Linked DNA regions of Homo sapiens: region 1 is linked to region 2. Evidence: fine-mapped expression QTL. A gene starts in region 2. The other region holds a variant in brackets. All regions are shown on one strand. Distances are from middle to middle. Region 1 holds the start of LRTM3 (leucine rich repeat transmembrane protein 3). Region 2 holds the start of METTL21C (methyltransferase 21C, AARS1 lysine).

Evidence for each region. PIP is the estimated chance that this variant, and not a neighbour inherited with it, causes the effect. A credible set is the group of variants that fine-mapping cannot tell apart.
Region 1: its variant is the best candidate, but not a certain one, in a credible set for the expression of METTL21C in skeletal muscle (GTEx, PIP 0.56).

What each region holds. Positions count from the first base shown.
Region 1 is chr13:102,751,260-102,767,362 of GRCh38, reverse strand. It overlaps LRTM3 (leucine rich repeat transmembrane protein 3), which reads left to right and starts at 8,291. Exons shown (of 4, transcript NM_001146197.3): 1 at 8,291-8,661; 2 at 8,787-8,820; 3 at 8,911-8,953. The coding sequence starts at 8,431. It overlaps LOC105370337 (a long non-coding RNA gene), which reads right to left and starts at 7,709. Exons shown (of 3, transcript XR_931685.4): 1 at 6,808-7,709; 2 at 6,056-6,162. It overlaps TEX30 (testis expressed 30), which reads left to right. Exons shown (of 6, transcript NM_138779.5): 5 at 1-90; 6 at 783-1,475. The coding sequence ends at 962. RefSeq lists a silencer at 12,200-12,421. The variant T/C (reference allele first, on the strand shown) is at 9,195.
Region 2 is chr13:102,689,449-102,705,551 of GRCh38, reverse strand. It overlaps METTL21C (methyltransferase 21C, AARS1 lysine), which reads left to right and starts at 10,508. Exons shown (of 4, transcript NM_001010977.3): 1 at 10,508-11,183; 2 at 14,588-14,739. The coding sequence starts at 11,054.

The sequences.
Region 1 (16,103 bases), 62 kb before region 2:
CAGCAGCATAAACTCAGAGATGAAGACCTCTTTCGTTTAAAAGAGCCTGTACTGTTTGTGTCAGGCTCAGCAGATGAAATGTGTGAAAAGGTGAATTATAACTCAATGTTTGTGTCAATGAAAGAGAATGAAAGGCAGACATATCTTGGGAGCAAGATACTTCTGGCAACAGTGTCTTTTAAAAATTGCTAATTTGACTAATGCTAGTTTTGTGTCCTGGTTACTCTGTTGCTTTTGAGAACCTAAAAATATAAGTATAGTGACAAAATTTGTATCCCTGGAAATAGAGTTGGTAAATATGACCCTTACTTGGAAAATGAAGGATTAATATCTGAATCATCTGATTTTGGGATTACTACACTATAGATTTTTTTAATCATTTCAACATTCAGGCAGAGTATTTGTTATAAAATTGATTCTTGAGAAAGGGTTGGCAATGTCTACACATTACTAAATATTAGCCCAATATTATGAAACAACTTTATATTCCCCAGGGCATATAATTTGCTTGGGAAAAAGATTTTTGGGGGAAGAAATTTTTTTATTCCAATTTATTTTACATTTTATTAGTAATAAATGCTTGATCTGATACTGCTACAGCTGAGAGAAGTGGACTGCCACTTTTACGGACATTTCCTCACACATTCTATTACCTAGAAAGTTGTCTGAGAAAGCATTTAATGAATACTTGGGAATGAATGCCAGTATAGGCAGGGGAGAGAGGACCTTTTATTAAATATCAACAGAACATTAGTCTAGTATCCTCTTCTTTTTCTCTTTAGAACTTGTTGGAGAAAGTGGCACAGAAAATGCAAGCTCCCCATAAAATCCACTGGATTGAGAAGGCAAATCATTCCATGGCAGTGAAAGGACGGTCGACAAATGATGTTTTCAAAGAAATAAATACACAGATTTTGTTTTGGATCCAAGAAATTACTGAAATGGACAAGAAATGTCATTAGTTAAAAGCCATGTTATCTTGAGTACACATACAGTTAATTTGATAAAGAAGAGTATGCCTCTCAGCATTGTGAGATATATTTCAGACTAATTTGATGTTCTTTAATGTTCCCTTATTTTTGAAACACGTTTTAAATGTGAAATTAATGTCCTTCACAAAATGTCTTTTGAAAGCACTGTTACAGTTGTATAAAGATGATGTAAAAATATTGAAGGTGGTCTACATATAATTTATTTTCATTAGTATAGTTAAGTTTTGAAAAAAATTAAACATCTGAATTTTGTTACAAAAAGGTGCTTTTGTCTTATTGATAGGCAACTGAGAAATTTTGCAGAGCAGCGTTATCTTCAGAAAAGGAAAACATTATGGTTAATCTAGTCAGAGATTTATAGAATGCACACATCTCTTCACCTTATCTTTTAATAAATCACAATGAAAGGATAGGAGTGGACATATGTTTCAAATATGGGGACCCTGAAGATTTTTTAGAATGAAATAAAGATCTTTAATTCAAGAAGTGTTCACTGAAGGCTTATTACAGGCAAACCTCATTGGGTTTGCAAAGATGAATAAAAACTTGGAGCTTACAACATAGTGTGTGAGGCTGGGCACGGTGGCTCACATCAGTAATCCAAGCATTTTGGGAGGCTGAGGCAGGCGGATCACTTGAGGCCAGGATCACTTGAGGCCAGGAGTTTGAGACCATCCTGGCCAACATGGCAAAACCCTGTCTCTACGAGACCATCCTGGCCAACATGGCAAAACCCTGTCTCTACTAAAAATACGAAAATTAGCCAAGTATGGTGGCACACATCTATAGTCCCATCTACTCGAAGGATGAGGTGGAAGAATTGCTTGAACCCAGGAAGTGGGGGCTGTAGTGAGCCCAGAGCACACCACTAGACTCCAGCCTGGGCAACAGAGTGAGACTGTGTCTCAAAAACACAACATAGTGTGTAAAATCAATAGACTACTCTGATTAAAGAGAGAAATAATTGCTAAATTGTAGTACTAACATCTTTGCTATATCTATGCAGTTGGGGCACTTAATTTTGCCTTGGAAAGTTCAGCTATCACCTGATCTCGAGCTTGAATGGTATTGAGTTATATATAAAGAACATAGTTTCTGTATTTCCTGTAAAATTCACAAAAGGTGATGAGGCTGATGTTAAATTTAAATAGAAGTTTGTAGTAAGAAATGTTTCTTTAATCTTTTGCATATCCTCCCTACTACTCTTAATGTTAGGCCATTAAAATAGCCTCAAGTGGCCTGGGCAGCTTGCAGATTTTTGAGGCCCTTTATTCCTCTGCCCTGATGGAATCAGTAGATTCAAAATATTAGTTTTCTAAATATGACAAAGAGAATGAAAACGTAGGTAATAATGTCCAAATCTTTCACATTGTAAAGTGATGCATAACTATAAATTTAAAATTCCTGTGACTATTTATAATAGATATTCTTGACTAAAAGTCATTTCCTGAACCTAAATTTTTAAGAATGTTGTATAAGTAAACAATAATTAACATTTGAAATTTTAAAACACTACTAATATCAAAAGATGATAAACATAAAAAATATCCAAAGCTATCAAGAAGATAGAATCACTGGTCTATTAACCACTATAAGTCATTGAAGAACATAAGTATTGTGAACCAGAAGTAAAGCTAACAGGACAAGGAAAACACAAAAGACAACTTATTACATAATGTTAGAGTACAACAAAACATTTAAAAGGCTACTGACCAGGCTATACAATTTACAATATTTGCGTTTGCAAAATTAAACTATAGGCATAATATGATGACCAAAGATACTACATCAAATATAGGGGTAATGTAGGTAGATGATCATTTAAAGTTGATTTTCCCCTGAGTTTTCTATAAGAAACTACTGTTCCTTATTGATGTAATGGCTTGACATTTGAGGACTGTATAGCTAGCCATATTTGGGGAACATAGAACTCCTAGAGAAAGATGAATGATGTATCCACAGCAGAAACGAACATTTAGGAAAAGGTCACATCTGCTCTCCTCCATAGATTTACCACGCCTTGCAGGAAAATGTTCAGCCCCTTCAAGTTTGAGATTATAATCAAAGAGCCATTCTGGCACCTCTTCTGGTAGGCCCTAATTAATGGCATAGCTGTTATTGAGGGGGTCTTGACTGCAAGTTGTCCAGGTTCTTGACGTTTTGGATAAAGAATTGGACAAAATGCACAGCAAAGCAAGGAAAGAGTGAAGCAAAGAAAGCATAGATTTGTTGAAAATGATAGTACACTCCACAGTGTGGGAGTGGGCCCAAGCAGCGGCTCAAGGACCCTGGAAAAGGAATCTTCTGGGGCCCAAACACCCTCTAGAGGTTTCCCATTGTCTACCTGGGTGTTCACCCCATGTAAATGAAGTGGTGGCCCACAGTCAGTCTGATTGGTTGCAGAAAGCAACCAGTCAGAGGCTGAAGTGAAGTTACAAAGTTACACTCCCATGCAAATGTCTGTTTGCAGAAAGCAACCAATTTTGCAACCAACTTTCAATTTTCTATCTGCTGCACAGATAAGGTGTGGGTTTGCAAAGGGAGTAGCCTCTGGTCTTTTTGTTACTTAGGCATGGAAAGTTGGGGTTTTCCTATCAACTTAGTTGTAGGAAGTCAGGGTGAATTGGTCTTAGGTTCTCTGCCTCCAGACCCTGTTCTCCTGCCTCATAAACACTCACCTAGACTAATGCTCCCCACCCAGGGGGGACCTTTACCCCTTAGGGCAGTGGTCCCCAACCTTTTTGGCACCAGGGACCCATTTCATGGAAGACAATTTTTCCACCTGACTGGGTTGGGAGTGGCGGGGGTAGGGATGTTTTCTGGATGAAACTGTGCCATCCCAGATCATCAGTCATTAGAGTCTCATAAGCGCACAACCTATAGATCCCCCATGTGCACAGTTCAAAATAAGGTTCCCTGCTGCTATAAGAATCTAATGTCACAGCTGATGTGACAGGAGGCAGAGCTCAGGCAGTAATGCTGGCTTGCCTACTGTTGGTTCATAGTGGGCCACGGACCAGTACTGGTCTGCAGCCCGGGGGTTGGGGACCCCTGTCTTAGGGGATATTTGGCAATGTCTGGAAATATTTTTGTCACGACTAGGGTTGGGGTGCTACTGGCATTCTGTAGGTAGAAGATAGGGATGTTGCTAAGCATCCTACAATACACAGTACTGCAGCCACAACAAAGAAATGTCCTGTCCAAAATGTCAATTAGTGCCCACGTTGGGAAACCTCATCTTAGACAAACCAGATTTGGGATTATCTGTAAGTCCTTTCTCCCTCACCATGAACTCTTCCATCCCCCACCTTGATCCATTTGCTTTTTTTTATTATGTTAGGTTTTTTTTTTGTTTTTTGTTTTTTTTGTGTTTTTTTTTGAGACTGGAGTGCAGTGGCGCGATCTCCGCCTCCCGGGTTCAAGCGATTCTCGTGCCTCAGCCTCCTGAGTAGCCGGGATTACAGGTGTGTGCCACCATACTTGGCTAATTTTTGTATTTTTAGTAGAGACAGGTTTCGTCATGTTGGCCAGGCTGGTCTCGAACTCCTAATCTCAAGTGATCCGACCGCCTCGGCCTCCCAAAATGCTGGGATTACAGGCAAAAGCCACCGCGCTGGCCTAGTTTTATTTTTCTGAGACAGAATTTCACTCTGTCACCCAGACTGGAATGCAATGGCATTATCATACTTCACTGCAACCTTGAACTCCTGGGCTCAAGGGATCCTCCTGCCTCAGCCTCCCAAGTAGCTGGGACTACAGGCGCCTGCCACTGCACCTGGCTACTTTTTAAAATTATCTTTTTTTAGAGAGACGGGGTCTCAAATATTTTTGTAGAGAACAGGGTCCTGCTTTGTTGCCGAGGCTGGTCTCGAACTCCAGGGCTCAAGCAATCTAACTCAGCCTCCCAAAGTGCTGGGATTACAGGCATGAGCCACCACACCCAGCCACTTGCTTTCTTTTAGTTGCTAAATCCTGGGTTTCAGTCTTTTACTCTAATTCAGACCCTTATCAATTCTCATCTATCAGTGCAGTAGCCTAATTGATTTTCCAATTTTATTGTCACCTTGCTTTGATACACCAGCTGGTACTTCCAACTCAAAAACTGTTAGATCTCCGAAGATGGCTCCACAGTAGGGCTCTGTCAACATTTTAGCCTTCTTTTCCCAGACTTCACACCTGTAACCGTGCTATAGCTAACATGGACTATATAAATGTTTATAAAATGGAAGAAGTATTTCTTACTCTTCTTCCTACTTTGTTTGTTCATCTTTGCCTGCTACCAAATCCAAATGAGTAGGGGGGATTTTTTTCCCCTCTTTGCAGATTTCCTTGAAATTACCCCAAACCAAGCATCTCACCTCAAACCCCTGTAATATCTTCGTCCTTTCTGTGTTAACCGAACTCTACCTTCTCATTAAGTTATTAATATCTCCATCTCACTTACATTACAAATTCCTTCAAGTTTGGGATTTTTTTTCCTCATCATTGTTAAATGTTAACAAAGATGTTAACAAAACGTTAACAAAATGTGTTAAAGCACGTTTTTGTTCCTTGTTCAGTGCTTTACACATTTATTATTCAACACATGTATTAAACTAAGATATTTACAGAAAGAATTTCTAACAATTTTGAACAATATCTGGCTTTATGTTGCTGTTTTATATATCTAATATTGGGACTTTTTCCTGTTAAGTAAAGAACAAAAACCAAGTTCATAATGTCAAGATAGTTCAAAGATGGTAACATTGGTAAATATAATAGGAAGTTTTAAAAAAAACTTTAATAGAATTTTCATTGTGTTTTCTCGTAGTGTCTATGTTTTACTACTGTAATAGGCTTTCTCTGATACTCTTTTTCTTTTTACTCTGTAAGCAAGTAAATCTTGCTTAGCATTTACTTTTGATGCTGTTCACTTGACATTGGTCTGAGAGGTTTCTAGTCCAAGAGACAGAAGCATTTATGCTGAAAAATAGATAATTATACTTTTGTTAGTAGCAAGTACATAAGTAACAAACATGACAAAGCCCTGGAGAGGGATAATACTTACCCCTATGTAAACCTACCCATCAGCAGGAGTGGTACGCAGCAGTTCCTTTTCAGTTCCTTAAGAGCTCTTCAGTGGAATGCTAATTAGGGATTCAGTACCATAAAGCTTGGAAAGATCTATTAACTAGAGAGAAGAAAATGTTGAAACAATGAATCCCTTTTAAGATAGTTACCATTAAATGATTTAGAGAGTTTCTGCAAGTAGGTGAGAGTAACAGTATTTTTCCAGCTGCTTAATTTTTCTTTTCCCCCCTGAGATGGAATTTTGCTGTTGTTGCCCAGGCTGGAGGGCAATGGCGTGATCTCGGTTCACTGCAACCTCCGCCTCCCCGGGTTCAAGCAATTCTCCAGCCTCAGCCTCCTGAGTAGCTGGGATTACAGGCACCTGCCACCATGCCCAGCTAATTTTTGTATTTTTAGGTAGAGACGGGGTTTCACCATGTTGGCCAGGCTGGTCTTGAATTCCTCACCTCAGGTGATCCACCTGCCTCGGGCTCCCAAAGTGCTGGGATTATAGGCATGAGCCACTGCGCCTGGCCCAGCTGCTTGAATTTTATGGGGAAACCCAGGAGACTAAAATCACCTCAATTGTCTTTGTGGGCAGGGGAGTACGGGGAAGGTGTACTTTACCATAGTTCTAGAAAAATCAAGAGGAATTGCTGAAGTTTCTTTCAGAGCCAATGAAGACCTACCAAGCATTCTAAAGGGCGATTCTTTGCGAAGACAAAATTCAAGATAAGAATTATACTTAAATAAAGATTAGAAATACCTGTACATTGTGGTCCAGGAGACTGGAAGACTGTAAATTCCAACATTTAGAATGTCATTGATCTCTTGATCTTCAATGTTCAGGGACAGTAAGAGTTGATAATTCTTTTTTCTTTTTCTTTTCTTTTTTTTTTTTTTGCAACAGTGTCTTGCTTTGTTGTCCAGGATGGGAGTGCAGTGGCAGGATCATGGCTCACTGCAGCCTTCAACTCCCAGGCTCAGGCAATCCTCCCACCTCAGACTCCCAAGTAGCTGAGACTAACTACAGGTGCACACCACTATGCCTAGTTAATTTTTAAATTTTTGGTAAAGACGGAGGTCCACCTATGTTGCCTAGTACTGGTCTCAAACTCCTGGGCTCAAGCCATCCACCCACCTCAGCTTTCCAAAGTGCTGGGATTACGGGCATGAGCCACTTCGCCCAGCTGAAGTCATAAATCTTTGTTGTACTTATTTAAACTGATGTGACAGAAGAGGCCTGAACTGTTCACTTCAGTGTAATGAATAATACTTCAGTGTAATGAATAATACTTCTTTGCTTAACCTACCTTGGATAAGTGAAGTACTAAAACAAAACCAAAGTGAAGCATTAATGAATTACATCTGCAAAGGAAGTATTAATTAATTACACCTTCAAAGGAAGAGTACTCTAAATCCAAGGTAGTGTTAACATTTTTCATTATTAGTCCAGACTATCCTGTCTACTTGTGACTAAAATCATATTTGCTCAATAAGCTTCCAGGCCTACCCACTAGACTTTGAAGGGGAGTGGGCAGTACTGTACTTACATCTGCCTCTGCCCTACCCTTAATTCTGACATCGGAAAGGACATCACAAGTAGCTCCCTGAAATCACTGTAGACAGGGTGAAAAGGAAATTCACCAGGAGGTTATTCCAAAGACACTTTAGTTTTCAGCATGTCAATAGATTGTTGAAGGGAAATGGTGCCAACAGACCCTGCTAGCAAAAAGAAATATAAAATGTGTTCTATTTTAAGAAAAAAATCAGACTCATAAAAGACAAGTCATCATACATTCTACATAGTTGTAATGGGACATACTTAGACCAAAAAAATTATTCGACATTTCTCTGAAATTCAAATTAAATTGGGCATCTAATGTTTTTATTTGCTAAACCTGTCAACTCTATCTATATTCATTCTAAGAAAGGACTATATTTTCCTTACCACAAAGAAGCATAAAATACATTGTTCCTGGTGTTAATAGAAATGGTTATGTCAAATGCTTTCTACCAATCCAAATTTATTCTATATTTATAATAGGGCAGCAACAATCCATGATAGAATTATGTTGCTATCTATGAAGTTAAGAGAAGGTAATTTTTTGAATTTTAGTAAAAAACTACTTATACAGTGTACATATCTTACCTATGAACTTCCATTATTGCTAAAGCTAATATGAGCTCAGTTAAATACCCACTATGACACGTACCTCACTTAACTTAGGCCCAGAGCAATCACTGCTGCACTTGATAAGATACCAGCAGCACTGGCCAAATGTTGCACATGGTTATGAGTTGGGCATACCGAGGTTTTATATTTCAGGGCCTCTGAAATCAAGGACTTCTGAATGAGACACCAGTCTCTTTCACATATGACATTAAAATGTCAAAGCAATATTATTCCTTTAAAAAAGGGGTAGGGAGTGGACTGGAAGATAATACATTCATGACATTATGGGACTTTCTAGAGTCCTGGATTATTCAAAATGATTGGGTGGCAATTTTCTTTATAATTTTACTAGGAATTATTTTTGAGATAATACTCATGAAAGCTTGTGCATCCTTTTGGAAGAAGCCCACACTTCCTGAAAAGGGTAGTTCAGATGTCCAGGAGGTAAGAATAAATGGTTGATTTCCCCTTTTCCTAGTTTTCAAAATCAGACATAAGAATAATTTGTAAAATTTTTGAATTTTGATACTCCGATTACTCCTCTAACAATTTTTTTTCCATTAAAATAGACGGAAGACAGTTGCCCCAAAAGCAGGAAACTTGGTAAGTATTATACAATTTCACATTTTAATATAAAACTTGTTCATCCTGAGCTTTTCTCATTGATACTGTGACTTTTTTATTCCTATTCAGCTCCAGAGAATTGGTCAGTTATTAATTCATCTTCAGGAGAAAGGTATGTGATATATCACAAAAATATTTTGAAGCTAAATGAAATAGGTTGGTTGTGTTCTATTCAAAATTGCCTTTACTTCTGAATTTCAGAGAAGGGTTTTCCTAGCTGTTCAATATCATGATTCAATCTAACATTTACTTTAAATTGTTGCTATGCTCCAAGCTGTGTTAAGGACTTTTCGTATATTATTGAAATTATCCTTCGAGGCAGGTAGTTTCTTACAGATGAGGAAAATAAAGCT[T/C]GAAGAGGATAAGTGACTTGCTTTCCTACTCTAACTCTCTCTCCAACACACCAGTTCTTATATTTCAACTGAAAAGATATTTATTTAGCACTTACTGTGGACCAAGCAAACACTGAGCTAGGTGCTGCATGAGTGACATGAAAGGAGTTTGTAAAATCAGAATTTATCAGAATTGTAAAGTTATCTCCGTGCTAGGGATTAAATACTGACATAATCACAACTCTTGATGCTATCAATATTTTAATTGTTTTAATTGAAATCCATTCAACAATTATTAGATATCTACAATATAGTGGACGCCAACACTGGGATTCAAACCATAATATAGTCTCTGTTCTCAAGAAGCTTATATTCTTGTGGAGAAGATGTATACATACAGGAAAGTTGCCCTGTGGTATGGTGACACAGTGACAGAAATATTAATATATTTAGGAGATACCTAAGCCAGCCTAGGGCATTGGGAATGGCTTCACGAAGAATGTTATCCTGGAGCTGAATTTTAAAGGATGAATGAACATTAGCCCGAAAAGGACAGAGGTTTAGGAGGATAAGAAAGACATTCCAGGACATGAACAGAAACAGCAGCAATGTGCAAGAAATTACTATTATTTCAGAGTTGCTGGAATGTTGAGGTTGAGTCAGGAAGTAGTGGAAGATGAATGTGAAGAGGTAGGTAGGAGTCAGGTCATAAACGGCTTTCTATACCATGTTAAGACCTGGATTCAATTCTGTAGATAATAACCACTACTGGTGGTTACACATAAGAGTGGCAGTTTTGTGTTTCAGCTAGATCACTAGTCACTGTGTGAATCAGAGGATTACTTGATGTTCGTCTAATTTCTTTCATTTGTCAGGTATAAAAGGGCTTTATTCATTTAATCTGGTTGCTATATTGTTGTATTGGGTACTAGCAACACTAGTTCTCAGGTGAGTGTCTTGGGAAGCTGTAACAATATCTGGAGGTGTGAGTAGGTAGAACCCTTGTGAGGGCCAGTTGGAAACAGGAATGCCAGCACAAGCTACAGCATGTCAGTAGTGCAATCAGAATAAGTCCAAATGGACAGACCAAGATTCAGCATTTGAGATATTAGAGGGCTTAGGTGTGCATGGTGACCCAAGGTTCACATGTAATTCAAAACCAGAGGATTAACAGGCAAGAGGAATTCACAAGAAGACATGGAGAAAAAAAGGATTTTTAGCTTCAGAATCAAGGACACTTTAAAGATTTTCCATCCCCGTGTCCTATTATTCCCTTCCTGCCTAGACAGAAGTTAATCCTCGGGTGGCATCTTTCTAGGGGGCGTTAAGGGAAATTCATGGAGAAGAAGAGGTTAGGGGGTGGTGTTGAAGAAAAAGGATTAGAGAAAAGATATGGCTCCTGTGGCAGCAGCATATTATGGTGAAAAAACATAAATTTTGAAGTTAAAAAAGGTCTAGCTTTATATCATAGTTCTGCCTCTTTTTGTTTTTTTGTTTTTTTTTTTTTTTTTTTTTTAGACAGAGTTTTGCTCTTTTTGCCCAGGCTGGAGAGCAATGGCATGACCTCAGCTCACTGCAACCTCCGCCTCCTGGGTTCAAGTGATTCTCCTGCCTCAGCCTCCATAGAAGCTGGGATTACAGGCACCCACCATCACACCTGGCTAATTTTTTGTGTTTCTAGTAGAGATGCGGTTTCACCATGTTGGCCAGGCTGGTCTCGAACCCCTGACCTCAGGTGATCCACCTACCTGGGCCTCTCAAAGTGCTGGGATTACAGTCGTGAGCCACTGCACCTGGCCCTGTAGTTCTACCTCTTAATGATGGCATGGCCTTGGGCTAATGACTTAACTCACTATACCTCCATTTTTTTTTTTTTTTCGAACTAAGGATTAGAAGAATTACCTCTTAGGAATATCATGAAGAATAGTTGAAATAGTATGTGTAACACGGTGGCTCACGCCTGTAATCCCAGCATTTTGGGAAGCTGAGGTGGGCGGATCACTGAGGTCAGGAGTTCGAAACCAGCCTGGACAACATGGTGAAACCCCATCTCTACTAAAAATACAAAAATTAACCGGCTGTGGTGGCATGCGCCTGTAATCCCAATGACTTGGGAGGCTGAGAATGGCTTGAACTTGGGAGGCAGAGGTTGCAGTGAGACGAGATTGCACCACTGCACTCCAGCCTGGGAGACGAAGCGACTCCAGCTCAAAAGGAAAAAAAAAAAATATATATATATATATATATGTATATATATACACACACACACACACACACACACACACACATATATATGTGTATACATATATATATAAACTTTTTTTGGGAAAAGAACTATGAACATAGTATTTTTTTATTTTTAACCATTGACACCTTCAAATAATTTTATTTCATTTAATTTTTTAAAATTCCTTCTAAAAAAAAAAACCAGGATACATATGCAGAACGTGTAGGTTTGTTACATAGGGATACGTGTGCCATGGTGGTTTACTGCACCTATTGACCTGTCCTCTAAGTTTCCTCCCCTCGTCCCCCATCCCCGAAAAGGCCTTGGTATATGTTGTTCCCCTCCCTGTGTCCATGTGTTCTCATTGTTCAGCTCCCACTTAGGAGTGAGAACATGCGGTGTTTGGTTTTCTGTTCCTGTGTTAGTTTGCTGAGAATGGTGGCTTCCAGCTTCATCCATGTCCCTGCAAAGGCCATGATCTCATTCTTTTTATGGTTGCATGGCATTACATGATGTATATGTACCACATTTTTTTTATCCAGTCTATCATTGATGAGCATTTGGGTTGGTTCCATGTCTTTGCTATTGGAAATAGTGGGACAGCATCTTAATAAATTATTTTGAAATAGAAGGGTATATTGGCCGAAGCTAAGCATCAGAATGGTTAAAATCTACTGCATTAGAGATGGAGTGGATTTTATCTTGCTTATGAAATGAGACAAAGGAGAAAGGGGGTAGCTGGGGGGGCAGAGAGGAGCAGAACAGAGGGAGTTGCAGGTGTAGTGGTGTGAGGCTTAGGACTGAGTGGCATAAAGGATGAGACCACCACTCAGTATCTGAAATCCGGGGACCCGAGCTGACCAGGTATCGTCTCAGTAAGCAAAGCAAATGGCTGACCTTATATCAGATTTTGGGGTATGGTTTGTTTTAGGGTTGGCCTTACCCATAGATGCATGCTTGAGTGAGAGTCTGCCACCAACCACCTGACTTTCAAAGCTTAAACTTGTCACTGACTGGTTGGTTTCAGAAGTGCATTTCCTGAAGGGAGTTATCGTTGATAGATAAAACAGTTTAAAAGAAGACTCTGTTTATTTGTTACTATGACTATAGGATTGCCATTGATTGATTTACAACTGGTTCTGCTATTGGTTACCATGGCTCTAGAACTGTTACTCTTTTCCTAGAGAATGAGGAGTTGTTTTTAAAATCTCAAAGGCCAATTAAGATTCCTTGGTGGGGAGAGGCCAAAGGACATCTCACAAATGGGGAGACGTACCTAATGTTTAAATGGGAACCCTATGCATGGCTGTAGTCAACTCTCTCCTGCTTCTGCTTCCAAGTCTTCACTAAAATCAGTCACATGATTTTAAACATATATGAGTGGTTTGTGTATGAGGGATTTTTTTCTCACTGAAATTGAGGAAAGAGTTGGGTCAGTTTGTTGTTAGCAATCAGAAGCCTGGAGGTGGAGATGGTCATTCAGCAAATACTTATTGATTGCCTACTCTGTGTCAGGCATTGCTGTAGGCCCTTGAGACTCATCAGCAAACAAAACAGGGTGTGGGGGTGAGACAGGGTCAGACAATAAATGACAACATAATAAATAAATTATATGTCAGGAGGTGACATGAGAAATTAGAGAGAACTGTGCTGACCAGGCATAGTCTCAGTGAGCAAAGCAAACTGCTGATCTTACATTGGATTATTGGATTTTGGGAAATGGTTTGCTTCAGGGTTTTTTTTTTTTTTTTTTTTTTGGAGATGGAGTCTCATTCTGTTGCCCAGGCTGGAGTGCAATGGCACAATCTCGGCTCACTGCAACCTTCATCTCCTGGGTTCAACAACTCTCCTGCCTCAGCCTCCCGAGTAGCTGGGTCTACAGGTGCATGCCACCATGCCCAGCTACTTTTTGTATTTTTAGTAGAGTTGGGGTTTCACCATGTTGGCTAGGTTTCAAACTCCGATGTCAAGTGATCCACCTGCTTCGGCCTCCCAGAGACCTGGGATTACAGGCGTGAGCCACCCCGCCCAGCCTGCTTCAGCATTTTCTTATATTAGGATTAGATCATGCCCATTCCTAAACTAATCACTCAGAAATGGGATTACTATATTAGACTGAGCCTAATAATCTGAGGTAGAACAGGTGTTGGAGAGTAGACATCATGATCATCCAACGCAAAATTTTGTCTTAGTTGAAGAATAGACTTTACTACCAAAGACTATATACTAAAAGTAATGGGCAGATAACAAAGATGTGTATACAGTCTGTAGTAGATTGCTGGGGCTGCCATAACAACGTATCACAAATTAGGTGGCATTAAAGAACAGAAATTTATTTTCTCATGGTTCTGGAGGCTGAAAGGCTTGGTTTCTCCTGAGGTGTTTCTCCTTGACTCGCAGATGGCCACTTTCTTGCTGTGTCCTCACATGCTCTTTTCTTTTTTTTTTCTTTTCTTTTTTTTTTTTTTAATTTTACTTTAAGTTCTGGGATACATATGCAGTATGTGCAGGTTTGTTACATAGGTATACATGTGCCATGGTGGTTTGCTGCACCTATCAACCCGTCATCTAGGTTTTAAGCCCAGCATGCTTTAGGTATTTGTCTGTCCTAATGCTCTCCGTCCCTGTGCCCCTCACCTCCCTGACAGGACCCAGTGTGTGATGTTCCCCTCCTTGTGTCCATGTGTTCTCATTGTTAGACTCCCACTTAGGAGTGAGAACATGCAGTGTTTGATTTTCTGTTCCTATGTTAGTTTGGTGAGAATGATGGTTTCCAGCTTCATCCATGTCCCTGCAAAGGGCATTAACTCATTCTTTTTTATGGCTGCATAGTATTCCATGGTGTATATGTGCCACATTTTCTTTATCCAGTCTATCATTGATGGGCGTTTGGGTTGATTCCATGTCTTTGCTATTGTAAATATTGCTGCAATAAACACGCATGTGCATCACATGCTCTTTTCTCTGTATATGCATGTCCATGGTGTCTCTGTGTCCAAATTTCCTCTTCTTACAAGGGCACCAGTCATATTGGATTAGGGCCCCACTCTAAATAAGTTAATTTAATCAGTTATAAATAAGTTAACTAACATCAGTTAATTTAATCATCTTTTGATGGCCTTATCTCCAAATATGGATTAAGGCCTACCCATATGACCTCATTTAACTTTAATAGCCTATTTAAAGGCCACGTCTACAAATATGGTCACATTCTGAGGTACTACGGTTAGGACTTCAACATATGAATTTTAGAGAAACACAATTCAGCCCATAAAATAGCCTATATATTAGAGGTTAATAAGTGCTCTAAAATTTGAGAGAACTTGAAAACTAACATATTTTAAATATTTACCTAATATTTTTGTGTTATCGATGAAAAAACAAAATCATTAGTGTAGCCTAAAATACCCCAAATTCTAATTAACCAAATCCAGATTAATGAGATTTCATTGTGTCAACTGAAGAATGATGGTGTTTTGAAAAGAATGATGGCGCTCATAAAAGGTTGCAGCCTGCAGGGTAGCCATTCTGACAGACTGGGAAGTGTAGCCTCCTGTCAGAAGCCAGAAACAGGCCATTGGAGGGCAGGAAGAATAAGACAGGAAATCATGCTGAACGAGGTGGATAATACTCATAGTCAATAAGCTGTAGGAGGAGTCATGAATATTTATGAAAGGAGAAATGTGTGCATGAGCAATTGAGCTTCATTCCTCTCCATGGAACTCATGTTCAAAAAATGGCAGCTTTAGCATGATCCGAGGGTGGAGTTTTTGGTCCTCTGACATCAAAAGGTGAAGCAGGGGACATGAAAACCCCCACTGCACATCCTTCCTAGACTGGGCAGAACCACTCTGTGGTTGGTAGTCTCTTATCAGGAAGGAATGCTGGCTGGTTGCTTTGTTGAAGGCGAAAGGGAGGGGCAGCATCTGGTCATTGGTTGATATCAAGGGTGGTGCAAGCCTTTCCAAAGGGCTGTTCTGTTTACCCTTAGGAAAGAAAGCCTAATGGTAGCGAGGCAGGGAGGTGGTATAATAAGGCCTGTCTGACCTCCCATCCCATCATGGTCAGGAATTCATTTTTCAAGATTCCTTTGGGGTCCCCTTGGTCAAGAGGATGTCCATTCAGTCATTTGTGGGACTTAGCATTTCATTTTTATTTCTCAGTTCTACAAGTAATCATTTAGCACAAATAATTTTTGTGGTTGGGTAGATCATGATGGATTTCATATACTGCCTTCACTATTTTGATTGAGGGTTATTTAAAAGTAAAGTCACACTTACAGTAAAGTAAGAGATAATCTGTGTTCTCCAAACAAATAGCTACTAGAATTATCTGACCTATTTTATATGCATTTCAGTTTTTGATTTTAGGCTTGCTCATGCATCAAACAGTGACTATCGAAATTTATCATGTATCAGAATCAGCTGGAGAGTTTATTAAAGCTCAGATTTTTTGACCCCACCTTCAAAACGTCAGATTCCACAGTGCTGGGATGGGACCAAAGAATATGCATTTCAAATAAGTTTCCAGGTGTATTGTTAGGGTTCTCCAGAGAAACGGAACCAGTAGGATATGTGTGTGTGTGTGTGTGTGTGTGTGTGTGTGTGTGTGTGTGTGTGTATAAAGAGAGAGAGTAAGACAGTTATTTTAAATAATTGGCTTAAGCAATTGTGGTGACTTGCAAGCCTAAAGTGTGCAGTTTA
Region 2 (16,103 bases):
TTATCGTTGGGTTTTAAGAGGTTTTTTTTGCATATTTTGGATAAAAATCCTTTATCAGATATGTCTTTTGCAAATATATTCTCCCAGTCTGTGATGTGTCTTATTCTCTTGGTGGTGTCTTTTGCAGAGCAGAAGTTTAAGCTTTAATGAAGTCCAGGATATCAATGTTTTCTTTCATGGCTGGTTTGTTTTTATTTGACTCATTGTTTTCCTTCTCACTGCCCTTGATGACTAATAGGGACCTCTCCTCCACTTTCTGTGCCCCAGTATTCATTATGCCATTTCTATGGATCCTACACAATTGCCATGGGCATCAAATGAGATGGTGTTTATAGATGGGGTTTTTAAACTGAAAAGCAGCAGTACACCTATCAGGTGACATTACTAGTCTATTGACAGTACACACACACACACACACACACACACACACACACCACATGCACATATATATCCACATGCTTTTATTTCTTTCTTCTTTGGCCAGTGGATTGTATTCATTATACCAATTAAAAAGAGACCATCATTCTTTTTTTTAAAAAAAAAGGAAAAATGTAATAAAGAGACCAATTTTTAGTCAGGTGCAGTAGTCACATCTATAATCCCAAAGACTTGGGAGGTTGAGGCGGAAGAATCATTTCAGCCCAGGAGATCAAGGCTGCAATGAGCCATGATTGCGCCACTGCAAACCAGGCTGGGCAACAGCGCAAGCAAAATCCCAACCTGTTAAAAAGAGAGAAGACAGAGAGAGACCATTTTTTTTTTTTTTTTTGTATTACAGTTGACAATAGCATTTGAAATCTAAGAGATAAGAAGCTGTAAATGTCATCTTTCATTCCAGAGCTTTTAGAAGGTTACCTTTCTCTGTCTCAGGGAGAAGTGTATCTATTTCAGTGCCCTCTGTCTCTGGAAGGGACAAAAATTCTTGCATGACCCAGGTTCCTCATGCCACTTCTTGATCTAGCTGTGCACTTCCTTGTGAAATCTAGTTTTAGCAAGAAGCTTGCTAAGTCAGTTTAGCCAGAACCCTTGATATCTGATCATCTTCCATCTTCCTCATCTTCAGGGTAAGATTCCTCATCCTCCACCATCCCCTAGGTGATGTCTCATACCCCGACCTGTCTTCAGCAAGAATCCTGTTAGGTCGGTTTAGCCAGAATCCTCCTTACCCAGATGTTACCTCATAGTAATTTTCTATCCACTGACCCCCTCCCTGCTCCTTGACTATAAGTTCTTACTTGCCCCTGCTGTGGTAGAACTTGACCCTGTCAACTTGAAATAATCGAAAGAATTAGAACCTAGCTTGAAAGAAGTTATTTAAGCTTTGAAAAGCTGAGAATATCCATCTGGGAAACACAGACTCCAGAGAAATGAGGTGAGCGCTCTGACGTTAAAAATTAAGCTTTTGCTTATATAGGCAGAAAACAGAGAAGTTTAGTTGGATTGTAACATTTTCTATACAAAGCTGGTTTATGAGTTACGGCAATTTAAATGGTGACAGTTTGTTTGCTGCTTGTTTTCATTTTCTTTCCAATTTAAAACAGTATATTTAGTATTGCATCTTAAGACAATGTGATAGCCATAAAGTCTTTGTGTGAGAAAGGTAGGGAGAAAGTTAATCTATAATGAAGATCCACAGTGAATAGGGAAGAGGTCTTCCCTGAGGCCCTTAAGTCATTTACATTTAATAGAACAATGTAGGGAAGGAAGAAGTTTAATCTCTAATCAGAGAAACACAGGTTTCAGTTGCCTGGGTTATGTCTGCCTGCTTGCCTGACTCAGGCCCCATAATCACATTCCTTTAAGGGTCAAAATAATTTAAAGTTCCAACAGCTTAGATTTTGAATTATATATTTTCACAAGCCCCATCTCCCCCACCACAAAACCTCACTGCCGTGGTTCCTCCACCAACCCTGATGATCCTGAATAACATCTGCTTCACTGTGCTGTAACGAGCGTCGCTGAATAATGTTTCCTTTAACAGAAGCGCCAAGAACTATCTTTGCGATTTTGCAAGATTTTCCCAGTTTACATTCATCTCCTGCTTCAGGGTTTTCTTTCCATTTATTTTGACAAAACTAAATGAAACTGGCAGTTAACTTTAACTGAGTAATGAAAGACAACAAAAAGCAAACAGAGCTGGAGACAGAGAGAGAAAAAGAACACCAATGAATTAACTGTGGCAGCACCTTGAGATTTGATGTTTTCTGGCCTGCAGGCCTGGCTACGGGGCACCTAGAACCCTCAGGGCTAGAAGTTCCAGCTGCCCATTGACTAAGCTCTAGGAAAGGAGAGGAAGGAGCAGAAGAGAGCAGGGAGGGGAAAGGAGAAGGGCAGCACGTGAAGCTCTAAAAGCTTCTGATTTATTTTGCTGAAGATCTAGTCATCAGCTATAGAAAGAAAGGTGTCATTGGTAAATGTCATAACCAGGTGGTTTATGATAGCTCATGTTACCTCTATCCCACTGCAATGAGAGTATTTATTTGAAGCTGTCTCTCCATCAATTACAGGGAAAGATCTTGAGAAAAAGACAGTTTCATGTAACATCTTTCAATATATTTTATTCCATGGTACTTTGGAATTATTGTTATATAGCAAATGGCATATTTTAAAAATTACCCTTTCTAAATTTTTGTTGTTCGTATATAAGAATGCTGTTTTTGGGGTTGGTTGCAGTGGCTCACGGCTGTAATCCTAGCACTTTGGGAGGCCGAGGTGGGTGGATCACCTGAGGTCAGGAGTTCGAGGCCAGGCTGGCTAACATGGTGAAACCCTGTCTCTACTAAAAATACAAAAATTAGCCTGGCATGTTGGCACATGCCTGTAATCCCAGCTACTTGGGAGGCTGAGGCAGGAGAATCACTTGAACCCAGGAAGCGGAGGTTGCTGCAGTGAGTGGAGATTGCGCCATTGCACTCCAGCCTGGGCAACAAGAGCGAGACTCCGTCTCAAAAAAAAAAAAAAATCCTGTTTTTGTACAGGATCTTACACGCAGTTGATAAACTCCTTCATTAGTTCCAAATAGTTTGTCTATAGAATTTATTGCATATTCTATATGGAAAATCATGTCATCTACAAACATGAAACTTCGTTTATTCCTTTCCAATTGTTACAGCTCTTATTTCATTTCCTTGCTTTTATCATACTGTCCAGACTTCTACACAATGCTAAATAGGAACAGTGACAGTGGATATTGTTGTCTTTTTCCTGTCTTTGTAATTTTCCTCCATTTAATGTGTGTATTATGTATAAATAATGAATATATTTAATGTGGGCTTTCAGTGGACACATGTTGTCAGGTTTATGAAGTCTCTCTCTCTCTTTCTGTCTCTCTCTCTCTCTCTCTACATATATATATATGTATATATATACACACACACTTTTTTTTTTTGAGGCAGAGTCTTGCTCTGTCACCTAGACTGGAATGCAAGGGCACGATCTCAGCTCACTACAACCTCCACTTCCCAGGTTCAAGTGATTCTCCAGCCTCAGCCTCCAGAGGAGCTGGGACTACAGGCACCCGCCACCACACCAGACTAATTTTTGTATTGTTAGTAGAGACGAGTTTCACCATGTTGTTTAGGCTGGTCTCAAACTCCTGATCTCAAGTGATTTGCCCGCCTCAGCCTCCCAAAGTGCTGGAATCATAGCATGAGCCACTGGGCCCTGCCGAAGTCCCCTAATATTTATGTTGGTTTTAAAAGACCATGAATGATGTTGACTTGTACCAAACTTTTTTATATATCTTTCAAGATGATCATATAGTTTTTCTTCTTTAGTCTGTTAAAGGGAGGAATTACACACAAATTCCCCTTTTATCAGCTCCCACTAATATTGCAGCATGTGCCTTGTACTTTTCTTCATGCTCGTAGAATAATCATTTGACAAGAGTATGCACACAGCCACACATGCATGCACACACACGCACATACACACACACACACACAATCAGGCTAGACTAGAAGTATGTGTGATAACAAACCTCCAGCATCTCAGTGGTTTGTCCCCTAAACGTTTGTCTTGGTCATATAAGATTTGCACGCAAGGGGCAGTGGTTGTCCGTGAGAAGGTGCAGCTATGGAGGCAGCTTCCTTGAATGGCTTCATTATTTCTCCACCCAAATACTTTGCTTTTTACTAGAGAATGGGGTAGAAGCAGATTGGAGAAGTTCCCAGAGGCATTTCCTTCCAGAACCTGGTGGAGTTGGTATGTGAAAGGTGCTATGTCTCTCAGAGACGAAGGAAACAGAACCCCAGAGCTGAAGAGGCGCATCTAGGCCACTTATTTGGAAAGGGGGAGGGCTCAGCTTCCAAGGAACAGGCTCTCTGTTGCTTTTCACCTGGATAGATATTTAAATAATTCAGAGTATTTCCCCCCAAACCTTGACAGCATGGCCTCATGGGAGAACGTCTCTCCAATGGAGTCCATTCCTTCCCCTAGAACAGGGGAAGGAATGAAAGGAATTCCGCGTTGTGGCACATCCCAGAATAGTTCCATCAGGTAAACACATTCTTTCCTAATAGAAATCTGTTGGGAAAAAATGATCTTTCTGAACAGTGGTCAACTGCTGTTGCTAAAATCGGAGCATGATTAGTGACAACTAAGTCCCCTCTCAAAAGTGTCATGTCCAAGCAGCGGACGGCGCTATGGAAAGAACGGACAGCGTTGGAGGCATCTGCTCCTGGCTGGGAGTCGTAGGGTGTCAGAGTCATGGGGCAGCCTCTCCTGCTGCTTCCCAGGCCTCACAGTAAAACAGGAACCGAGGCATCCTTGCCCCTCCTCAGCTTCAAAGCTGAATCACTGTGAAGATATGGTGTTTCCACACTGATACATTTATTTCACTTCATTTATCTGAGGATTAAAGTGAGCTGCAGAAAGGTATCATTTATTAAAGTGGAAAATAGAATAAATGTCGTTGCCAGAGTATCCCTTATTTCAAGCACATTTTCAGTGTCAGACTTTCTCATCCAAACTTGTTTCCCAAGCACAGCGTTCCTCCGTGTAATTAATATCACATGCTTATAGCTCAGCTGCAAAGCATTCTTGGCTATTTTGATAACATGAAACCTGGCAGTTACCCGTTGTGATTTACACATAGTTGCAGTTGGAGATTTTTCTAAAATTACAATAAAATTTCTTTGAGGGGAAATCTGTTTTAAGGACTGGATTGGGGAAAGAAAATAAAAAATAGAAGCGAACAACTAAGTATGTCTATTCTCCAAAGTGCATATAAGTCTATCAAGGCAACACACTGGCCTTTGATCAGAGCCACTTTACAAGGCAGGTGATTTATGGACAGCCAGGCCATCCCCTGCAGTGAAGCCTGGGGCTCGAATGCTTAGGGACAGGCATGTGCTATTTTTAAAATAAAAAGACTATAACTTCACTGCTGTTTCCAAACCTATTGGATTATTTTACTGCTATGCTTTATTTCCTTCTTCACTGGTAATGTTGGTCATCTAAGATGAAACAGAAGTAATATTTTCCATGTTCGCAAGTCTGACAAATTTTAGTTTACAAAATTCCTTTCTCTGCAGGTGGAGATTTGACACTGTACCTGAGTGGGTATAGGATTTAATTGTTACCAGAGCCAAATCCAAAGCAGGAAGAATCCTGTCTTAAAATCCTGAAGCACAGGTGTTCTAAGTGGCCTCAGTCTTTGCATCCCATATAGAAGCAGCTGGCAGTCACAGCGGCTGCTCTCAGGGGACTCCCCCAGAAGTCTGGCCAGTGCAGGGCTGGGTCGGGGGGGTATTGCAGCAGCCCTGGACCATTTGACAGACAGGATTCTGACATTTGGGCCACTGTGTTACCAGCTAATTGAGGGACCAGAAGTTATGAAATTGCATGATTTCACTTTGACCTTTTCTCCATTACTCACTGGAAATCACACACATTGAATGTCGGTGGTTCCAGGGTTCTTGAAGAAGGTCTGTGTCTCCAATGAAACCCTCACTTCTCTGGGAGGGAATTCCCACTGAGTCTCCCTTATAAGTAGGCATGGTGGGTATGTCTTGCATTTGCCTGATCAGTATCTCATCCTTTGTGGACCTTTTAGGAAAGATCAATGTGGAAATCAATGAGTCTCCTATTCATATTCTGGGATGGGAACAGGAATAGCAGCCCAGGGCGAGCTGTGGTGAAACAGCCAATCAAGTTATTGTCAGTGGTCCCCTGGGATCATGTGCCTGTTATGGAAGAAGCAACGGAGCCAGGGAAGAAATGGACATCATCTAGAGGTTTGGACTTGGGAAGTGCAACTCCATTGCCTTTAGTTGCAATAGCTGGAGGAGACTTCAGGTTATTTTCCACTGTAGAAAGGGTGGGTCTCCACTGTGAAGTTGTATTTATGCAAATAAGGAAGTATGTATGCACTGGGTGAGAAGAAGGGTAGGAGGGCTATTATAACCCTTGCTTTTTATGGGTTATGGCCCTGCATCCCTTCTTTGAGTTGCCAGCCTGCTCTTCGTGGTTTGGTGCAAGGCTTCCCACAACCCAGCCCTGACTATAGGGGTGAACTTAAGACTAAGAGCACTCGGAATCTTTTTCCCTAGACATTGAATCTTGACCATAGATACACAGTGATGGATGGTGACTGCAGTTGTGACCTTCAATGGCAATGTTTAAACAGAAGGTCCATGAACTCCTGCTGCTGATATCTCTGGAACCAGAGCAGCCCTGGACCCTTTATATCTCAAGGCCGATGTGTTATAGGACCAACAGGTTCATATGCCCACTGTGTAGTAACAGGCCAATGCACTGAGACAGCCAGGAGGCAGCAGAGAAAGAGTTTAATGATTGCAGGGCTCCTAGTGAGGAGATGGGAGAAGACCCTCAAATCCATCTCCCCGAGAGTTCTGAGTTGGGGTTTTAAAGGGGATCTTGGAGGATGAGGGGCTGGAAAATTGGGGTCATTGATTGGTCAGGGTGAGGAGGATGAAATTATCAGGATGTGGAGCCTGTGTGCTTTGGTGAGTCAGCTTCTTGGGGGGTCCTTCAGACCTGCTGATGTGGGTGGTTTTAGTGGCATGTAGGACGTGAAAGAATATCTCAAAGGAAAACAACATTTCATAAGGTTCTAGTTGTTATCTCTAGAGCAGATAAGGGGATCTATAATCTTGTAACAGGGTCTATCTGATTCTAAGACAACAGACAAACAACAACAAGGAAGTGCGTCAGAGAACAGGCCGACCTCATGATCCATGCTGCGTGTGCTGCAAGCTCATTTTAGTCTCATTTCTCTCCCTCCCTTCTTCCCTGATGAATAAAGTTTATTGGGATGGTTTCAGATGCTCAGCTTTTCCATATGATTAGGTGAGTGATCCAGAACCCTTCCAAAGAACCCTGTGGACTCAACCCTCTGTTTGAACAACATACAAGATAATATGAGACATTTATTTATCGAGGACCCTCTGAGCACCTGGCACTGTGCCAGATTCTTTCAGATATATAAAATTTCACTTGCTCCTGTTGATTCTGGAAAGGAGCAACGGCATCTTATGAAGCTGTAGCAGATACTGTCCTGGCCTCGCTCATGTGTGTCAGATGTGTTGGAGTGCCCTGGCTGCTGCTCTGCATGTGTAGCTGAGGTCCTGCTGGAAAAATACCACCGGAGCTCTCTGCAGCTGGAGTGGAATAATTCTGAAGTGTGTGTTTTGCCTCCTTTCCCAGTGTCTCCCCATGGGGTTAAGCTCTGGTCGCCTGCTCCTGTTGCTGGTCTTGTGGCACACACGTGGCAGGATGTCACCCTTTCCCTGGGTTGCGTCCACTTTCCTTGCTGTGTTATTCACACTCCCCAAATAAAATACTTTCACTCAAATCCCTGCCTTGGAGTCTGCTTCATCGAGAAACCAGACTAAGTAAGATGGGGGCTTCTGGGATGCTTGGAAGATGCAGCTCAGGGTTGGTCCTGTGTTAATCCCTCTATCAATGCAAATCCACCTCCACCGTATAGACGAGAACACTGAGACACAGGGGAGGCGGGAACAACTCACCTGACATCACTCAGTCAGTAGACACCTAGGCTGGTAATTGTGGTTTACCCTTCATGGCAATGCTGATCCTTTGCCTGGCCCAGGGTGGCTTGACCTTTGCACTGTGGACATTCTGAGCTGGGTAATTCTTTGCTGTGCGGGGCTGTCCTGTGCATTGTAGGAGGTTTTGCAGCATCCTCCGTGCACTAGATGCCAGGAGCATCCCACCCCCTATTGCGATAACTAATAATGTCTCCCCCAAATTGCTGAATGTCCCCTTGGCAAGAGGGGAGGACTCCCCCTTGAGAACCACAGCCCAAGAGAGCCAGATTTCATAGGAAAAAAGGCAGTGCCCATCCTGACAGAGAGAGGCGAGTGACAGCACATGAATAGCCTCCTTATTGAGCCTTTGATCCAATCTTGTATCTTCTGACTCCAAATCTGGCCCACTTTCCATTATGTAGGCTTCTTGGGATCAATTGTTCCATTGTTCTACTTGTTAGAAAGTTCTTTCCTGTTGAGCCCAAATCTGCTTCCCAGTAACTGACTTCATCAGCGTGCCCTCCGAAGCCATGCAGGAGGACTAATCCTTTTCACCGGCTGCACTTCAACTATTTGAAAACAACTTGTGTGTCCCTGCCCTGTTCCCTCCCTGCCCTGCCCCCCGTCAATCCCTTCCTGAACCTTTGGAGTCTTCCCGTGGCTGCTTGGGCACTCAGAGTTTCGCTCAATAACAAATTCAGCAATTACAACACCTACTATGTGCCAGGAGCTACCATATGTCAGAGAACAATTCTCAGACAGGGAATTCAGACTTCTTGGTTCCTTCTCACACCTGCAAACAAGAATTGCCAGAGCCTGGAGTTGACGCATGTTAAAGCTTCCGGGTGATTTGGACATAGCCTCTGCCTACAGGTAAGTCCAGCATTTAAGAGCCTTTGATCTACCGTGGTCTAGCTCCAGGCAATAGAGCTCTGATGTATATCTTAAAGCAGCTATCTAAAAGATGGCTTTGAAGAAAGTATTAAAAAGGAACTGTTTTTTAAATTATTTATTTATTTATTTTTATTATACTTTAATTTCTGGGGTACACATGCAGAATGTGCAGGTTTGTTACATAGGTATACACGTGCCATGGTGGTTTGTTGCACCCATCAACCCATCATCTACATTAGGTATTTCTCCTAATGCTCTCCGTCCCCTAAGTCCCCCACCCCCTGACAGGCCCAGGTGTGTGATGTTCCCCTCCCTGTGTCCATGTGTTCTCATTGTTCGACTCCCACTTATGAGTGAGAACATGTGGTGTTTGGTTTTCTGTTCCTGTGTTAGTTTGCTGAGAATGATGGTTTCCAGCTTCATCCATGTCCCTGCAAAGGACATGAACTCATCCTAAAAAGGAACTCTTAATAGGATGCTAGGTTAAAGAGGTACATGTTTCTATCAAGTCACATTTTCAGTAAAATAGCTTTAAAAAAGTTTATACAAAAAAAATAAGCCTAGAAGTTGATACAAAAAAAAAAGTTGGTGAGGTTTCTTTCTCTAGATAGTAGAATTAAAGGAGATCAACATTTTTTCCTTCGTCCTTTGCTTCATTTTAAAGCTTGTAGAATGAACGCATATGTTTGTCTATGTGTGTGTCTACATGCATATAAATATACACACATATATTCACGTACATTGCAATCAGTTTTTAAAAGGTTTTTGTAGAATTGTACTGATGACTATCTTTTTGCTATTTCTCATAGGGACTGATGACACCTGGAAGAAATAAGTTGCAGAGATGCAGAATGCAATCATAGAACTAGATGCATTTGGGGAATAAGAAAGCATTAGAACGATAGAGCTGGAACAAATGCCGGCTTATCCCCAGTCATTTAAGAAAGTGGGAAAGGTGATTTACATGGGACCACAGCACATCTAGATGAACATCCTGAGTGAAAAGAAACTGACATAAAGAACACAAAATAGTGACACCAGAGAAACGAGTACCGAGGGTGGGTACAAAAACAAAAATGGGCTTTTATATCTACTCAGGTTAAAACACCATTCATCCAACTCCCTGGTTGAATGTAGCCTATCACAAGTGATTCTTTAATTCCCATTTGTCTGAGGCTTTACTTTGTGTGACCTATATTCTATTTTAAGGGTTTCTGAGCTTCACAAATGAGCACATGATTTTTCTCCTTCCCTTTTGACTATCCCTTATTTCAGTTAAATAAATCACAATGGCTTACTTTTTCTTGGAAGAGTTTTTCTGATTTCCTCTTCCCTCTGCTCTAAATCCCCCAGATTCAACGTTAAGCCTTTGACTCCCGTCCCTTCTCATGGATAGATGCTCTCCTTTCTTCCTCCCCAAAGCATTCCCTTCCTCTTGGTAGATCCTTGTGTTCTTTCTGGCTGCCTGGATACGGGTCCTAGGCAGAGGCTGGGTGGGCATGTCCTCCCTGTGGCTACTGGAGTTTGGCAAATGAGCACAAAATTTGCAAGTCTGTGCAACTGTCCAACACCCACTTCTTTGAAAAGTGAACTGGAAGTCTAACGTTTCGAACCACATCGCAGCAACTGGATGCCACAGGGGCAGCCTCTGTTCTGTTCCAGTGATATTCCTGAAACTTTTGAAGGGAATTCCATTGAATGTTGCTAGGACTGTGCGTGTGTGTGTGTGTGTGTGTGTGTGTGTGAGAGAGAGAGAGAGAGAGAGAGAGAGAAAGAGAGAGAATTCTAGCAAAGTAATGTGTCTATGAGGACTGGTAGATAATGCTACCCTAAATAACTTGGGCTTCCACTGGCTGGATTTTGTTCATCAAATGCTAATCCTTTCAGGTGTAGACCTATATAAAACACTGGGGATTAAAGAGTGCACAGAAGCCTCACATCTCTTCTGCTGCATAAGGTAAAGATACGTGTAACAATTCAAAATTATTTTGGGCATACTAACAAGGAGTCATTTCCAATTCTGTATTAATTACGAACATGCGATGTAGATCATAGATGTGCTGAACTAGTAACAGTCAGTCAGTAGATTATAGTCGTTCTTTTGTAGATTGCTTTTCAATGCACAGCTGTCTTTGGGACAGCCGGCTATGGACGTGTGTCTGAGCTCCGCGCAGCAGCCTGGGCGCCGGGGGGAAGGACTCAGCTCCCCGGGTGGCTGGTTAGAGGCTGAGAAGAAGGGGGCTCCGCAGAAAGACAGCACCGGGGGAGTCCTAGAAGGTAACCTCCTTCTTCATCACTTCAACAGTTTTCCTCAGTTGTTTTCCTGGCGATGACATCTTCAAGTAAATTTCAGTGACAAGAATTTCCATTTCCTTTTAACATTAGATTTTTTGCTATAATGAAGCTTAGCAGAAAAATGTTTTGCAAGTATAAACATAATTCCTGTTTTTTCATTATTTACTTATTAAAAGTAATTCCTGGTTTTTCATTACTTATCAAAGTTTGCACATTTGTTTTTTTTCTATGTATAGATCTAAGCTTGCTGTATTTTTGTAACAAGAACTTAAAAGAAGAACAAAAAATCTAGGTTCATTTCTGCTTTTCACCAAAATACATTCTTGGTAGCTTTGTCATACAGTGAATCTTTATAAATCAAACTGTATTTCCCCGTTAGGACAATGTAACAGTTTAGGGTTACATTTCTGGGCATGGATTCAGTTGTAAATAAATAATAGACATAACAAATGATCTAATAAAAGCCAAGATGCAGCATTTACAGTGTTCATAATTAAAGGTGGTAAAAAATGTATCCCAACTCCAATAAATGAGAATGTTGTCTATTTTTACTGCATTGTTTACGTAAAAATGCAACTCTACCTTATCTGAAAATCTGATCTCTCTAAAACTATCAGAATAGCACAGAGAATAAATGAAAATATTTCAGGCACAAAAACATATGTTTCTTTATCGTTGTAGAACCTCACAGGGTCTTATGAGAGAATACGTGTATGTCTATGTTTCCTTACAATGTTGATTGGAAAAGTGCAGCTGTCAAGCTTAATATTTGTCAGTTTATTTACCTGTGAAATGATGAGCCATTCAAAATCAGCCTACTTACTCTTCCTAGTCTCTAGAGAAAAATAAGTCCCCAGATGGTGACATTTGGAAGGAGGGACAGGCATGGCCTGGATGAGAGTGGGGCAGGGCAGGGAAGCCGGCAGGGGCTGGTACAGGTCCCTGATGCTCTGAGCCACCACCCAGTGGTGTGCTGGCGACGGCTTGTACTGGCACCTGAATTTCAGCATTTTTTGTAGCTGATTGTTATATATAACCATCATTTAAATTTAAGTTAGAATCTTATGATTAAATAGATTATATTAAAGACAAAGGTATATTAAAAGCAAAGTTGATAAACACTCAAAACTCATCATCAATTATTCTATTACCTCTTCCTAATATCTATGCTCTCGAGGTTAATCGTGTCTGTGGTGTCTGTACGGTAGGAACACTACACAGTGGCGAGGTACTGCACGTCTTTCCCCAGCGAAGTCATGCTGCTTCTCTGAAAACGGCACGGTGGGAGTATTTACTCCAGAGCAATCGTCAAACGCTGTCAATCACCGCTTCTTCCCCTCTTGCTGAACTAGTTATTAAACATTAATCACCCTATTTTTCGGCCTTCCTCCTGCCTCTAAACCAGAATTCAGAGCCAGCCTCTCAGCCCTGTGTTGGGAGCTGGGGTTCTGCTAGATGTCAGTGGCTTCCCAAAAGAGGTGGGGAAAGCTACAGGGCTCCCTCCTTTCCCTACAATCTCCCTACAGCCTCCTACCAGGGCAGGTGACCGCAAAGGACAAGGTCTCAGGACTGAATTGGTTACCTTTATTAGAGGCGTCTTGCAAGTTCACTGAGGTCCCAGGTTTCTGGAAGCTCACCTTTTTTGTCAGGGCAGAGAATTCTCCTTCAAAGTGGTAGAACATACTAAATCAAAGTCACAGGCTAAAACAACACTCTGAAGAACTGAAGGCACCCATGATGCTAATTTACAAATGAGTCACTTCATTCACATTTTTTTTTTAGTGTGCTGCACACTGATACTTTTGTAATATACAACAAAAATGAATTTCTAGAGAAATTAAATGAAAATATATACAGACATATAAAATACAAGCTCCGGGTTTTGTTTGTAGTTAGATTCAACAGGCATCGTCAAATGGTTGTGACTGTTTCTAAAGGCTCACTCCAAATCCCTCTACTTACTGTGGAGCTGTTATCAGCATTTGCAGAGCAGTGGCAGGGAACTGTTCCAGTGTGTATGGAATGAGTGAGACCTGAAACACCCGGAGGCCCTGCCCCCGACCTGAGGGATGCCCTGCTGACCAGGTTTCTCCCAAGACCCACTTCCCTTTGCCTCGTATTCACCTCCTCCTGCCTTCCACCTTGAGAGGCTATTTCAGATTAAAACACTTCCAATGTTCACCGGCTGCCCCCTTCTACCTTTGTCCAAAGCCCATATTTGACCCCCGGTTAAACATTTTACAGTCATATCCCAGGCCACAAAGGCAGGTTTCGTGCAAACAAAACTGACCTTCCTCCCCCCTACTCTCCGCACTGTTAATTCTTTCCCACCCGCTGGGACCAACACCTTTTCCTCTGCTCCTGCTCCTTCTTCCACACACTTTGACTCACTGCTCTTTTATTCCTAAACACTCTGGAAAACCTGCAAACACTTGTGATCTCTTGATGTCAGCCCGATCAGGTGCTCTTTTCCTCTCATTTTATATGCCATCTGAGAGCTGCTAGATGGGTCATGGGTTTAAAGGAGTATTTAAAGCAATAGTAACTTAATAGCCAGAGCTCAGCTGACATCCTCCCCCAGGGCTGTGGGGCTGGCTGGGCCTCTACCTTTTGAACAGCAATTGTAGGAAAGATTGAAGGAACATGCTCCAGCCAACACGTGGGAATGTTACTTCACTTCAAGACCTAAAAATAGGCAGGTCTGGCGGGGCGTGGTGGCTCACGCCTGTAATCCCAGCACTTTGGGAGGCCAGGACGAGTGGATCACGAGGTCAGGAGTTTGAGACCAGCCTGACCAACATGGTGAAACCCCGTGTCTACTAAAAATACAAAAATTAGCTGGGCGTGGTGGCGCACGCCTGTAATCCCAGTTACTCAGGAGGCTGAGGCAGGAGAATCACTTGAACCCGGGAAGCAGAGGTTGCGGTGAGCTGAGATTACACCACTGCACTCTAGCCTGGGCAACAGAGTGAGACTCTGTCTCAAAAAGAAAAAAAAAAAAAGGCAGGTTTGTGTTTACCTAGTTCCTCTGTATCCAGACAGCTCATTCGTGCAATTTTGCTGGTAAGTTCGCCATTTTTCCATCAGCAAAATTTAGGGTGGGGACCGATCCACACATCTTCTGTCCTCCCCTAAATAAAGAAAAGGCCCAGAGCATTCTTTGGCATTTTGTCATCTGATAAAACTGTCACATCCAAATTTCATGTCCCCATCACCCCATATAATTCAATTTTGTGCCAATTTGCAGCCGTTCTCCTTGATAGCATCATCCCTTCTCTTTATGTAAAGGTCATTCAATCTAATGCCATCTTAGCAATTATACCAAGTGTGTCTTTGCACTGGATTTGAACAAATCATGAACTCCATTTTATTTTTCTGCTTCACAGAATCCAACAAGATAGAACCATCTCTTCATAGCCTCCAGAAATTTGTTCCTACAGATTACGCCAGCTACACTCAGGAGCATTATCGGTTTGCAGGAAAGGAGATTGTCATCCAGGAATCCATAGAGAGTTACGGAGCGGTGGTGTGGCCAGGGGTGAGAGAACTGTCATATTTGTGATGTCAGGATTTCTGGAGATAACAATTCCGTACTTCAGAGTTGCCTTGGACAATTTGTCAAGTTCCTTCATATCCTGCTTCTCAATTTGAGGTTCAGTTGCTTGCCCCCTGGAGGGTGTTGGTGGAGTGCTTGGGATCAGCAAAAACAGTGTTTCTTTCAGAAACACTGGTTTTGCTTCAAGCTCTGTTTCTCGAAACATTATTTTTATATTAAATAAACTCAGCTATATGAGGAAGTGAATGCAAAACTTGTATAAATTGTTAAGAATAAACCCAGGGATTTAGAGTTTAGATTTTGCAGTGGGCATCTCCGAGCCACGCCCATCGACCCTCAGCCATTCATCTCTCTCTTTTTTTTTTTTTTCTTTTGAGATGGAGTCTCACTCTGTTACCCAGGCTGGAGTGCAGTGACACGATCTTGGCTCACTGCAACCTCCACCTCCTGGGTTCATGCAATTCTCCTGCCTCAGCCTCCCGAGTAGCTGGGACTACAGGTGCGCGCCACCATGCCTGGCTAATTTTTGTATTTTTAGTAGAGATAGGGTTTCACCATATTGGCCAGGCTGGTCTTGAACTCCTGACCTCAAGTGATCTGCCCACCTCGGCCTCCCAAAGTGCTGGGATTACAAGCGTGAACCACCACGCCCGGCCGGCCAGCCATTCATCTCTTTTCCATGGGGGCTGTGTCGGTAGGGATGTTTAGGAAGCATGACTTTGTGGCATGTCACCCCTGCCACAGCCCTGAGAGGATGGCGCTGAAATGGGGGCAGTCCTCTGGATTTTTAGTCAGAAAAGCTGCCATTTCAGGGCTGGGTAGTCACAAATGTTCACCTCACCTCCGTTTGCCTTCATTTCCATATTTAAAACCTAGGGTGGTCGTAATGTCTACAGTGCTCCTGACGTGGTTGTCAGAATTGTGAGAATTAATTTCAGATTGTGAGATTAAATGAAGTCCTAGCGTAAGCTCACATGAACTGTCCTCATTAATGTAATATTCTTTCCACCTTTCAGCTGAGGAAATGGGAACGCAGGCCAGTCTGCTGGCGTGGTAAAGCTCCCGACTGGGGTGCAGGGCAGAGCCAAGATAGACAGTGGCCCTCAGAGCCAGTGTGGTTGCTTTTCCCACTGCGGATGTTGTCAGTGATTAGAAAGGCTCCAGATCAGAAGTTCTCAATCTGCAGTCTTGTTAAAATGCGGATTCTGATTCAGGAGGTCTTACACATTCCGGGGTGATGCCTATCTGCTGGGCCAGGGTGCCCACATTGAGTATTCCTGGTTAGTGGTTCCACGGGGCTCCCTCAGGTCATCTGGCGATGGCACAGGATGGGGAGAAGGGTAGCC